2 linked regions of the Homo sapiens genome follow. The protein of the gene in region 2 purifies or fractionates together with the protein of the main gene of each other region. This does not show direct contact. Each region holds a gene or a part of one and is shown on either strand. Other genes may lie near its edges. The genes, in order: ST14 and SPINK1.

The links.
Region 1: the proteins of SPINK1 (region 2) and ST14 purify together in Homo sapiens (affinity purification with mass spectrometry; one large-scale study listed by BioGRID and IntAct). This does not show direct contact.

The regions. Positions count from the first base shown.
Region 1 is NC_000011.10:130,197,515-130,201,336, forward strand, and holds part of ST14 (suppressor of tumorigenicity 14 protein), read left to right. Parts: intron 1-326; coding exon 327-431; intron 432-793; coding exon 794-904; intron 905-993; coding exon 994-1,107; intron 1,108-1,432; coding exon 1,433-1,555; intron 1,556-2,436; coding exon 2,437-2,623; intron 2,624-3,822. UniProt on the Homo sapiens protein: Exhibits trypsin-like activity as defined by cleavage of synthetic substrates with Arg or Lys as the P1 site. Involved in the terminal differentiation of keratinocytes through prostasin (PRSS8) activation and filaggrin (FLG) processing.
Region 2 is NC_000005.10:147,826,227-147,828,843, reverse strand, and holds part of SPINK1 (serine protease inhibitor Kazal-type 1 precursor), read left to right. Parts: intron 1-715; coding exon 716-822; intron 823-2,617. UniProt on the Homo sapiens protein: Serine protease inhibitor which exhibits anti-trypsin activity. In the pancreas, protects against trypsin-catalyzed premature activation of zymogens.

The sequences.
Region 1 (3,822 bases), on a different chromosome or scaffold from region 2:
ACACAGGGCAGGGCAGGGCAGGGCCTGCGACCAGCTGGCCTCTCTGCAGGGCACCTGGGGCTTCCTGGGCTTCGATCCTCAGTGGTGGGGAGGGACCCTGCCAGCCCAGGTTGGGGTCTGTGGCCAGCCCTCTTCCCACACTAGCTGCGGGTGCAGGAACCCCTTTGTCACAGCTTGGTGGGCCTGGGTAACCCCTGCCCTGGGCCACAGCACCTGCCCTGCTCCTGTGTGTTTGTGGCTGGGAGGTTGGCCCGAGGGAGGGAGCCGGGAGCCAGCGGAGGGAGGTGGGTGGGTGCTGGGGGCCTCAGGCCTGCCTGTGCCCGCAGCATGCCCGGGGCAGTTCACGTGCCGCACGGGGCGGTGTATCCGGAAGGAGCTGCGCTGTGATGGCTGGGCCGACTGCACCGACCACAGCGATGAGCTCAACTGCAGTGAGTCAGGCTGGGAGCCCCGGTCTCCCCACCCTCCTTCCCCACCCTGCCCGCGTCCCATGGCCCTGCTGGCTGACTGCCGAGGCAGAAAGGCCGGAGGTGGTGGGAGTTTTTGCTCTCGGCCCTGTGTAGAGACCTCTGGCCCCACTCCCCACCCTGCCATATGGAGATCTTGGCCTGTGGGGCAGGTGGTGGGGTATCTCGGAAGTGCTGAGGTCAGCTTGGTAGCTGGTGGAGCAGGGCCCCTTGGGCCTCTCTGTAGATCAGAAAGCGGTCCCCAGGTAGCTCTGATCGCCTGGGCATCCTGGGGAAGCAGTGAGTGATGAGGGCCTCACGGCCGACCTCCCCTTACCCCACTCCAGGTTGCGACGCCGGCCACCAGTTCACGTGCAAGAACAAGTTCTGCAAGCCCCTCTTCTGGGTCTGCGACAGTGTGAACGACTGCGGAGACAACAGCGACGAGCAGGGGTGCAGTGAGTGCTGGGGAGGGGCTGCCTGGGCGGGCAGGTGGGCGGGGCGACTGACGGTGGCTCCTGGTGGCTGAGTCCTGGTGCCTCTCCAGGTTGTCCGGCCCAGACCTTCAGGTGTTCCAATGGGAAGTGCCTCTCGAAAAGCCAGCAGTGCAATGGGAAGGACGACTGTGGGGACGGGTCCGACGAGGCCTCCTGCCCCAAGGGTGAGGCCCGCCCCACCCATCTTCCTGTTGGGGGCCTCGCCCCTGGAGGAGGCTGCCCTGAGCACACGCACATGCAGGACGCCCCGAGTTTAATGAACACAAACCACCTGTGTGTTAAGTGTGATGAGAAAGGGCTCTGGTTGGGGGAGAATTTTCCAGAAGGTGGAGAACCTGTAGCAGGGCAGGGAGGCCAGTGGGCGTGGGTGGGGCAGGCCTGGGTGAGGGGGTAATGTGCAGGGGCCATGAGGCGCCATTGGTGGTTTCTGGCTTCTGGTCGGATGCTGCAGAGGAATTGAGCCCCTCCCTTGTCCTCCTCCTTGAACAGTGAACGTCGTCACTTGTACCAAACACACCTACCGCTGCCTCAATGGGCTCTGCTTGAGCAAGGGCAACCCTGAGTGTGACGGGAAGGAGGACTGTAGCGACGGCTCAGATGAGAAGGACTGCGGTGAGCAGGGCATCCGAGTACGGTTGTGCAGGTTGTTCACTGTGTGAAGTGCCCACCAGAGGGTGCACCTGGAGGTGCAATCCCGCCAGCACCTCACTTAGCAGCTCTGTGCTTGGGTGAGAGGGTGTGTCTCCTGGAGGAAAGGATAGCCTTGCCAGTTGGCATGAAGGCACCACCCCACGGGCTGGCTCTGGTCTTGGAGAAAGGCCCGTACGGCCAGCATCTCAGCGCCTCTGTAGCATGGCGGGGTCGTGGCTGCAGTGCGTTGCTGGCCCCTGCTGTGTAGACACAGCTGTGGAGCAGTAGCCTGGAGAAGAGCGGCCCAGCTCACCCAAGCCCAAGGCAGGGTGTCACCCCTGCCTGCCCATACTTTAATCTGCAGCCTCTGTGTTTCAGAAGCGTTGGCTGGCCACAGGTTAGATTTGAGCACAGCTCCAGCGTTCTGTGACCTCACATCAGCGGTTCATTCGTCCCTCTCAGAGCTGTGGCCTTCAGCATTCAAAGGCGCTTCTCCCTGCTCCATGCTGCCCCCTCCCCTGTGATGTCCCAAATGATGTCAAGTCAGGCAGATGACACCCAAATCAAAGTGAAGCTGACCAGCCAGCCTCCGGAGGCCCTCGCTGCATTTGTGAGGGAGGGGGAGGTGGGAAGATGAGGGTTTGAATTTGGGAGCGGGGAGAAGGAGGGGCATGGTGGAAGGGAGTCTGTGAAGCTCAAAGATAGTTTTGGGGGTCCCTCACGCCCTGGCCACGCCAGCAGTGCTGTGCACGCCAAAAGCTGGCTTCCCCACACAGGGTCTCCTGGCACACACTGCATGTCCCCTTGTGGTTTGATGTCCCCACCTTGACTTGCTGTCCTCTGGTTCTCTGCTCCCTCTGCAGACTGTGGGCTGCGGTCATTCACGAGACAGGCTCGTGTTGTTGGGGGCACGGATGCGGATGAGGGCGAGTGGCCCTGGCAGGTAAGCCTGCATGCTCTGGGCCAGGGCCACATCTGCGGTGCTTCCCTCATCTCTCCCAACTGGCTGGTCTCTGCCGCACACTGCTACATCGATGACAGAGGATTCAGGTGGGTCTCTGGGTGGGCAGCAGGGAGCCTCCTTGCTGGCCCTTTGCATCTGGGAGTAATGCCAGGATAGGTTGGCACCGAGGCAGGGCACTGGAGGGGTGGCCACATGTGTTAGTCCATTCTTGAGTTGCTCTAAAGAAATACCTGAGACTGGGTCATTTATAAAGAAAAGAGTTTATTTGGCCCATGGTTCTGCAGGCTGTATAGGAAGCGTGGTGCCAGCCTCTGCTTCTGGTGAGGGCCTCAGGGAGCTTCCATCCATGGCAGAAGGTGAAGGGGGAGAAGGCACATCACATGGCGAGAACAGGAGCAAGAGAGAGCAGGAGGAGGTCCTAGACTCTTAAGCAGCCAGCCTCGTGTGAACTCAGAACTCACCCATCACCATGGGAAGGGCACCAAAACATTCATGAGGGAACCGTGACCAAAACACCTCCTACCACGCCCCACCTCCAACACTGGGGATCCCATTTCAACATGAGATTTGGAGGGGACAAGCATCCAAACCAAATGAGCAGATATCCCAGGACGGGGCTCAATAACAGTAATAATAAAAACTCACTGTATTCGGTGCCCACTTGCAGCCAAGTGCTGTCTCTGTGCCTCTCCTAAAACCCCCTAGCAAGTTAGGCAGCTTGATTGTATCCTCACTACAGAAAGTAAGGTTCAGAGAAGTAGGGACGTTTGCTTGGGGTGGCACAGCTGTTAAGTGGCAGAGCCAGACTTGAGCACAGGTGTGGTCTCCGGTGAGTCTGCACTGTGCAACTCCTCGGATTGGCCAACGTGAGCTTTGGATTCATGCTCCAGCTCTGGCTTGCCGGTGGCCCTGGGCAGGTTATTCAAACTTCCTAGGCCTTGGGTTCTTCACCAATGATAGTGACAGTATCAGCTCCCACCCTTAGAGTTGTGAGAATTAAATACAATGCTGTACTTGAGACACTTTGCGCTGTGCCTGGCACATAGTAGGTGCTCAGCATGTCATGGCCTCAGACACACAGACAGATGAGAGGCCTGGAAGGGTCACATGGGCATCCCAGGAACAGGGGCACAATGCCGGGCTGCGCTATTTGTGTCTTAGCTCCTGGCCTCTCTGGGCGTCTGGCTGTTGGCTGAAGGAAGGAGTGTTAGGGCCTGGCTTGCCCTGAAGAGGCAGGCACAGGGGCATGGGCCTTCCAGGAGAATCCAACCTCGGAAGAAGGGGA
Region 2 (2,617 bases):
AAGAGCTAAAGCTCAGGAACTCTGACTAGGTTTGAATTCTGAATTTAGGAATTCCTTAGCTGGGTGGCCTTGGCTAATTTTATTGCTTTGTGCCTCATTATCTTCACCTGAAGAAGAATATAATACTTAGTTCACAGGATAGTTAGGAGGTTTAAACAGAATAATATATAAAAAGCACTAGAACAATGTCTAGGACAATGACAATCATTTGATGATTATAAACTCTTACTGGAGTAGAATGCAAAGACTTCCAACACCCGACAATGCCTAGTGCCTTTAAGTGCCTAATAGAAGACCAGTGTGTGTGGACTACAGTGTACAAGGAAGAACGTGCCCCAAGATGTGGCCAACCTGAGAGATGCCAGCACCCGCAGTAATTGCAAACTTGAACATTATCTCACCCATCCATGTAAATCTCACAACAACACTATGAGATAGGTGGGAAATGGTAATATCATCACTGTTTTGCAGATGAACTGACTGAGTTTCAGAAGGGCCATAGGACTTACTAATGTCACACAGCTTAGAAATAGCAGAGGCATGACTTAAAACAAGGTTTTCTGTCTCCAGATAGTAGGTTATTTCTCTTACAACACACAGTATCATTCTCCCAATCACAGTTATTCCCCAGAGAAATAAAACCATTTCAGAGATTTTGCTATGAACTCAAGAATGGAGAATAATGGGAAATGATTCTGTTTAATTCCATTTTTAGGCCAAATGTTACAATGAACTTAATGGATGCACCAAGATATATGACCCTGTCTGTGGGACTGATGGAAATACTTATCCCAATGAATGCGTGTTATGTTTTGAAAATCGGTGAGTACAAACTTGAGTTTCTTTTAAACTATATATTTTAAGTTAGTTATCTTCAAGTGTACTGATAATATGAATCTCACCCCGAGAAAAGCAAACTATTTACTTTTTCCAAAAACAGTTATCTCTTTCTTATTCTCCCTTTTATATATTTAGCATTAAATATTATTTTTTAGAAGTCACTTGTATGATAAAAGCCTATATTTTTTACAGCAAAATAGTCGATAGCTTGGATTTTTATAAAGTACACACAAAATACCTTTAATTAAAAAAATTATTAGTGGTTGCAATGATTGTGTTTTTTAAAGCCCTCAGTTATGCAAATATAAATTGTATAGATTATATAACCAAAAATATATTTTTACTTATGGATATGAAAGCCAGTTTCAGTAAAGCTTCATTTCCTCAGTGACCATAAGTAGGTGATGTGATACAGAGAAATAGATTCAACACAGATTTCCTATCTCACTCAGCAACTGAAACCTTAGCATGTCTCAAGCATCATGCTAATATTCCCTGTCTTACTTGTGCTTATGACTAAGAAAACATCATGAGCATGTATAGGATGGCTTCTTATAACTTGGGGCAAATGCCAGAAGATGAGGTGTAAATAAAGTGCAACAGGAGTGAAGCAGAGATACATATTTTTTATTAAAAGGGGCCAAGAAAGGATCCATGAAAAGAATAGAATGCCAGCCGGGTGCAGTGGCTCACTCCTGTAATCCCAGCACTTTGGGAGGCCGATGCAGGTGGATCACCTGAGACCAGCCTGGCCAACATGGTGAAACCCCATGGTGGCGGGCGCCTATAATACCAGCTACTCAGGAGGCTGAGGCAGAAGAATCGCTTCAATCTGGGAGGCAGAGGTTGCAGTGAGCTGAGATTGTGCCACTGCACTCCAACCTGGGTGACAAGAGTGAGACTCCATCTTAAAAAAAAGGAAAAAAAAAGAATAGAATGCCATTTAAATAGAGTTCTGAATTTTGGCAATATCAAAAGAGCATGCCAGGTTAAATAAAGGTGTGGAATGAACAAAGCAAATAAAAGGGATTCCACGAGTGACTTTAGTTTTTCTGAGATTGACTTGATATTAAAGACTTTGACTCAGGCTCAAATGACTGTGTAAATTTCCATTATATTCTACTGCATAAATTCCCTTTTCTGTAATGCAAACCTTCTTCTTGGGCTGTTTTAAACCATTTTGGAAAATTCTCAGAGTTTAGCAAGTATTGTGGAAATAGGACCTCTGGATGAGAGGTCTAATATCCTGAAGTTTTAGACCCAAAACATTAGGTATTCTACTTTGTAATAAATCTGTTTCCATAATTAAGACTTGTAAAAAGAATTTGAAGCCACCTGTTAGTTTTCTCATGACCCATGTTCTTGACATTAAGCTCAAACATCATATTTCCATCCAATGGGAGGAGAAAGCAAGAGAACAACAGCTTTGAGACTTGGGAAATTTCCAAGTGCCGCTCAACATTTACAGTGAAACATTAGAAAAATATTAGTAGAGGGCTGGAACACCCTATCTGCTTAGCCTCTGAAACCTCCGAGTTTCTGCTTATTCTTTCTATTTGTTCAAAACTATGTAAATATGGGAGGCACATTTGTATGCTAGAAAACATGACCTCTCTTCCTATATTTCTCAGATAAGAAAATTTAGGTCTAGAGACAAAATGTTGCTTTCTCAAATACAACATATTTCCTAATGTATGACATTGCCTTTTTCACTGTTGATTAAAAGTCCCAAACTTATTACCTAGTAACTAAAGCCAGACGCTGACCCTAGTTTGAG